Homo sapiens: one gene and its partner. The protein of the gene in region 2 purifies or fractionates together with the protein of the main gene of each other region. This does not show direct contact. Each region holds a gene or a part of one and is shown on either strand. Other genes may lie near its edges.

Region 1 (2,449 bases), on a different chromosome or scaffold from region 2:
AATCCTGCTCCCTTTCGAAGCAAAACTCCTCCAAAGAGTGGTCTGCTCTGGAGTTAACAAGTCCTCTCCTCTGGCCTCTCTTAAGGATGGAGACTGAGTTAGCAAGTCCTCTCCTCTGGCCCCTCTTAAGGATGGAGACTACCCCAGACAGGCTCCCACCAGGGCCCTGAAGCTGTTCTTGTCAAGGTCACAGTGACCCATGTTGCTAAACCCAGTGGCCATTTCTCAGTCTTCATTTTACTTGACCTCTCAGTGGCACTGGCCACAGCTCTCCCTCCTCCTGGAAACACCTTCCCCTGCAGATGCCCAGGTCCTCAGCCCTGCCTGGCTGTCCTCTCACTCTCTGGCCACTCCTCAGTCTTCTCTGCTGATTTCCTCCCCATCTCCCTGACCTGTTAGCCCTAGGATTCAGTTCTCAGCCCTCTTCCCTGTCTACAGCTTACCCTTGATCTCATCCAATCCCATGTCATCAAATACCATCTATATACAGATGGCTTCTAAATTTACATCTTCAGACATCAGTCCCAAACTTGCATATTTAACTACATACTTGACATTTTGACTTGTGTTTCTAACAGTCATCTCAAATGGATCAAGTCCAAAGTTGGACCCCCGTCCCTCCTTCAGTCTTCCCCACTTCAATTAAGAGCAACTTTAGCTTTTCCATTTCCTCGGGAGTCATTTTTGACTCCGGTCTTCCTCTCGTGCTCTACAGCCAATCTATCAGCAGATCCCATTGGTTGTGCTTTCAAAATATACCTAGAATTTAAACCCAGGTTGTCTCACAATGGAGCCACTGGTTTCTAACCACTCCCCCTCCCCCGACTTATGCTGAAATTGCCTTCTCCACACCCACCAGCACCACAGAACTGCAGAGCTGGCTGGCTCGCCAGGCCTGTTCCTAAACTTTGACATTGTGAACTGACGCATGTTCCTTCCTGTCATCTTCCCCACAGAACCCCTCTATCCCAGGAGTGCTTTACTCTGGGTCCCTGGGCTTCCCTAGGGGGTTGCTAAGTCCTCTGAAGTAATGTGGGAGAAGAATCCTGGGTGGATGTGCATTTTTCTGGGGAGAAGGCTGACAGCTTTCATCAGATCTTCAGGAGGATCTGCGAGTCCCTCCAAAAAGACTGAGAGCCACCTGACTCCTTCGTTCCTCCTTGATCAGTACTTAACACTTTACATAGACATTCATGCATGTTCTCCAGATGTCCTTTATTTATATTCGTATTCATAAGTTCTCATACTACTTCTGGTCTTTTTAGTAGCTCTTTTAGGGCTGTAGCCACAGAACGGTCATTCTAGTGATTCTGAGCAGGGTGGAGAGGAGTGCAGCATCCCTGGGCGGGTGGGTCAGTGAAGACACGCCCAGCTCACCTGATATTCTGTGACTGGTTGCAGAACACAAGTCCCTCTCGAAATTGTTTAGGTTTGTGGGGAGATATCTGTAAGACAGAGTGAGAAAGCCTTATGGAAAAGGCCAAGAAGTGCTCAGCAGGCCTAGCAGAACGCTCAGGAATCCCACCCACACCATCCCTCATTTCTGGGTCTTTCTTCCTGGACATCTCAGGCCTCAGACCTGCATCCAGGAGCTGGAGCACCGCAGTGCTTCTGAACGCCTCTTCCAGTGGCACCTGCGGGCCTAGTGTCCCCACACCCGCTTGGGTGACAGAGGCCAATCAGTTGTCAAGCTTATGACTTCCAATCAGAGTGGTGGGGCCCTGAAATGACTTGCTCTTTGGGTCACTGTATGTAAAGCAATTTGCAGCTAGCGGCACTGGGCGGGTGACCCTGCCTGAGCCCAGTGAGGAGCAGGTCGTCTGCCTGCGGTGCTTCCAGGACCTGTTTGGAGACGACCACAATAAGAACGGGTTCAAAATGTTCGACTCCTCCAACTATCATGGCCAAGACCTGCTTTTCAAGGATGCCACCGTCCGGGCGGTGCCTGTCGGAGAGAAAACCACCTACCGCGGCTGGCTGGGGCTGGACTACGTGGCGGCGCTGGAAGGGATGTCGTCTCAGCAGTGCTCGGGCGCAGGTAGGACAGGCCCGCCCTGCCGCCTCCCCTGGTGCTATTCAGACCCCTTCACCCCAGAACCCTGAGGGAGCGGGGGGCGCTGCGGGTCCGGGGAGGCGGGTGGAGGCCCGTTCGCAGCAGTCCAGGTGGGGTGTCCCGGGAGGATTTTGGCCAGGAGGCTGCGGGCCGGGAGGGCGGGAGCCCGGCGGGTCTCCCAGACGGACCTGGGTAATGAGTGTGAACGCTCAAAACGGCGGCGCGGGGAGGATCTGGGGCCACGGCAGAGACATGCGTGTGCTGCCTTTCTGGAAAGAGCGCATCTGGAAGGGCAGCAGGGGAAAGGAGCACAAAGAGGGAGGCTGCGGCGAGTTCGGTCCCGAAAGATGCCCCCACCCCCACCCCAGAGCGGGCGCCTGAGGCGGCCACCGCGGC
Region 2 (3,701 bases):
TTCCATTCCATCCCTAACCCTGTAGAAAATATTCACATTGATAATTCCAATGCACTTACATTGGAACTTAATTTAAAAAATTTTTAAATAATTATATATAAATTATATACCTATACTTGTTTATAGGCATTTTTCCTAATCTTAACTAGTTGTATAAACAACATTAGATTTAGATGTATTCTAGGATTCTGAAATTAAAAAGCTGCAAAAGATTTTGAAAATACAAAAATATCACATTAAATGTCCTATCGATGTACTGAAATATCATTATCAATGAACATCTTGCTCCACAGGGTAAGATTATTTTTCTAATTTATGATGACAGCCTGACACTTCAAGAAAGGGTCATGTTGTGATTAAGAAGTTACATACTTATGAGCTTAACTCTTTGTCTTCTGAAGATGGCTAATATTTGAAACACCAAAGTATAATATTGGAAAAATGGGCTTGTGCATGTTTGTTATTCACATGAGTATTTGCAAATCTACATTGATTTACTCAGGAGATTGGGGTGGGAGAGGAAACAATGATATTATCTGTTTCCAAGAATTACCAATAAAATCTACCCATTAGTAATTTACTATCAATGACGAGTTACATTTTATTAGTTTATAAATTTGTATCATTTTCATGTGTACCATTGATGACATCAATTAAATTTTAGTTATTTGAAAATAGGTTATACTACAAGATTATAAATGCTAGATAAAAGCAGTTAACTCTATAGTAAACCTAGCTAATTTGCAATATTGAGATTAAGTACATGAGACTTGTAAATATACAAATGTGCATGTACATACAGCTATAACTTCTGTAATAATTTAAAACAATTTATTTCAAAGGGAACAATTAAGGGGAGACTCCTCTATTTTTTCCGTATCTGATCTTTGTAATAATGTTTGATTAAGACTGTAACAGCACAAAAATATTTCAGTAATATTCTCTTTGAAATACTGTTTGAAAGCCACATGGCCAATGGTTTACTTTTTGTTTCTCTTTAGAATGAAATGGTGTAACCCTATAAAGCCACAAAATAGTAAAGTTCATTTTTAGCAAATACTATATAAACAAAGGGAAAAGACCCTCCCCACCTTCTGTTGCTATTTTGAGAGTCATAGTTGCTTTGAACTGTGCAATGAGTAATAAACTTGGGTTGAGATGCTGTTTATTTATCAAGGTTTACATGTACAAAATAATAATAAATCATAGTAATGAATTGCATCTTTTAGTAATAAACTTGTTTATAACAGTAGTTTTCTCTCTTTTCAGAATTTAGGACCTTTAGAAAAGTTACTCTCTGGAAAATAATATTTTATTTAAACTCTGGCATTAAAAAAACTACTCTTTGGAAATTTAGGCATGACTTTTAATGTATACATTCTGTTTTTCTTATTATTTCTAATTCTCAAAATAGTAACATATATTCTGATCCCACATCTTAAAAATCCTGAAGAGAAATAATGAAACCATTTAAGTTAACATGTACACCATTTTCTTCATATACTGCAGACCAAGTATTAAATGTTCCATGTGGGCCAGTCACACTGTGCTAAGCACTTTATATGATTTACTTATATAAATCTTCATAATAATTCTATTAAGTAGGGGTAATTTTTACTCCTATTAATTGGTGAATAAACTAAGATTTTAAAATATTGCCCAAAATTACCTAGATTTGTGTCAGAACTCGTGTTTGAACCTAAGCCATTTGACTGCAGTTCCTCACCTCAATCATAAGCTGTTGTAGTTCTTATTCCAAATGGTGACAAAAAATGTCTGTCATCAAAATGAATTCATACAGAATGAGTTAAAGAGGTATTGAGGTAATTCTGTTCCATTTTTACCAATATCTGTGGTTGTGCTTTAAAGGTACAGTGGTGAGTATCAAGTTTGGAACATTTTAGGCCCCTCTAAAACTCATCATTCCTAGTGCCATTTATTGAGAATGTCTCTGGTCATGCTGTGGCAAAAACAGCCACAAGTTTAACCCTCTTCCATGGTATGGATGGAACTTGTCACTGAACTGTCTTTGTACTGCACCAGTGGCCTTGGCATGACTCTGGGCTGCTAATCCTAGTGAGGGCCTGAAAGGAGTGCTGGGACTCACTAGCTGAATCTATTGACTGTGCGCTTCATAGTTTCCTTTTGCTTCACCACACAACAAACACGGTTTTCATACACTATGGAAGACAGTTTCCTGTAGATTCCCATCTGCTCTCTACCTGAAACCCTAGATTTATGCATGTTTGTTCAATTAAGAAGAATGGGGGGAGTCTCTACATTGACCTCTAAAATCTCTTGAAATGTCATCTCCTAATGCCATAAATTTCATTACACAAGAGAAGGCAGAGATATTTTTATAATAATAATTGCATTTTCCAGTTGTATGACATTTTGATAACACTCCAGGTAAGATAATTAGGGACTATAAAAGAAGAAACGTTTTTAAAACTTTCTCGGAAATGTACTGACCTAGTGAAATGTCTTTAGGAGAATTTGTGAGTAAAATTTGTGAGTAAAATGAAAAATTGTATGGTATATTTTGCTTTTATGCTATCCCAAGTGGAAGTTCACAATCCTGATGTATTCCAAATCATATTTACATATATATGTGTACAGATATATATATGTATATGCATATGTAATACCTACCATTAATTTATTCTCATCCTCAGAATTGCTGTTTTTTTATTCTTTCTGTCTCTCTCTTCCTCTTCCTGTCTTTTTCTTTCTTTCTTTCTTCTTTTCTTTCTTTCTTTCTTTCTTTCTTTCTTTCTCTCTCTCCCTCCCTCTTTCTTTCTCTCTTCTTTCCCTAAGATATTAATAAAGCTAACTAGTTTTGGCTCAGATTTCAATATTCACAAAATATATATTCTAATTAATAAGAGTGTCACAAATCATTTGGAAAATAATTGCACCTCTCAATTTGCAAATCCTTAGATCAACAGCTTAATTAGCGTTGCCAGACTTTAAAAAATGTTTCCAAAAATTCTGCTCCTTCTCATTTTCAGATATTTCTCCAAATGTGACCCCTTTTGACCCTTTCCCTCTATTCCCAAATGTATTTTTTTCTCATCTCTCTTATAAACTGTAGCCTAATACCTTCTTTCTCTTTCTCCATTCTCCTTTTCTATTTGAGTGGAGGGAGAGAAGGCAAGGATTGGGCTCTGTTTTATAAACTCCAGTTTCTCTGTTTTAATTCCTCCACTGATTTGTCTGTCTTTCTATCTTTTCTAATAATAAATACTGGTAATTTATTTTTTCTCTATTGTATGCTTCTTTCAAGGCTTTCTCTTTTGAGAAATATTTAAAGACAACCTTTGGATTTCCTTATCCTTGCCTATTTGGACCATTTCTTCTTACTTTGCTAACACACTGTTTCTAGGCCTTTTGCTTTTATCTGGCCACCAAAATAAATATCTGACACCTGTCCTAATATATGACTCTCAGATACAACTTTGTTTCTTATTATCTGTCCTCTGACTTGGCCCCTGTGACATACTGGTTCTTTCTTTTACCTTTTCAGAATTTCACTTCTTCACTTCTTCCAAAAATCTTTCACTGCTCCTTCATTTGTCAACTCGCCTTTTAATCTGCAATACCCTCATTCTCCAGAACTTTAAACATTATTTTCTAGACACGAACTATGAAGTTCTCCACTTCTGTTACCTAACCCAGGTGGAGTGAGTTGAGCTTGCTCA

What was found.
Region 1: the proteins of SLC5A12 (region 2) and MELTF purify together in Homo sapiens (affinity purification with mass spectrometry; one large-scale study listed by BioGRID and IntAct). This does not show direct contact.

Annotation. Positions count from the first base shown.
Region 1 is NC_000003.12:197,003,490-197,005,938, reverse strand, and holds part of MELTF (melanotransferrin isoform 1 preproprotein), read left to right. Parts: intron 1-1,194; exon of another isoform or gene 1,195-1,445; intron 1,446-1,579; exon of another isoform or gene 1,580-1,758; coding exon of another isoform or gene 1,759-1,839; coding exon 1,840-2,038; exon of another isoform or gene 2,039-2,337; intron 2,338-2,449. UniProt on the Homo sapiens protein: Involved in iron cellular uptake. Seems to be internalized and then recycled back to the cell membrane. Binds a single atom of iron per subunit. Could also bind zinc.
Region 2 is NC_000011.10:26,666,444-26,670,144, forward strand, and holds the end of SLC5A12 (sodium-coupled monocarboxylate transporter 2), read right to left. Parts: 3' UTR 577-3,701; downstream 1-576. UniProt on the Homo sapiens protein: Acts as an electroneutral and low-affinity sodium (Na(+))-dependent sodium-coupled solute transporter.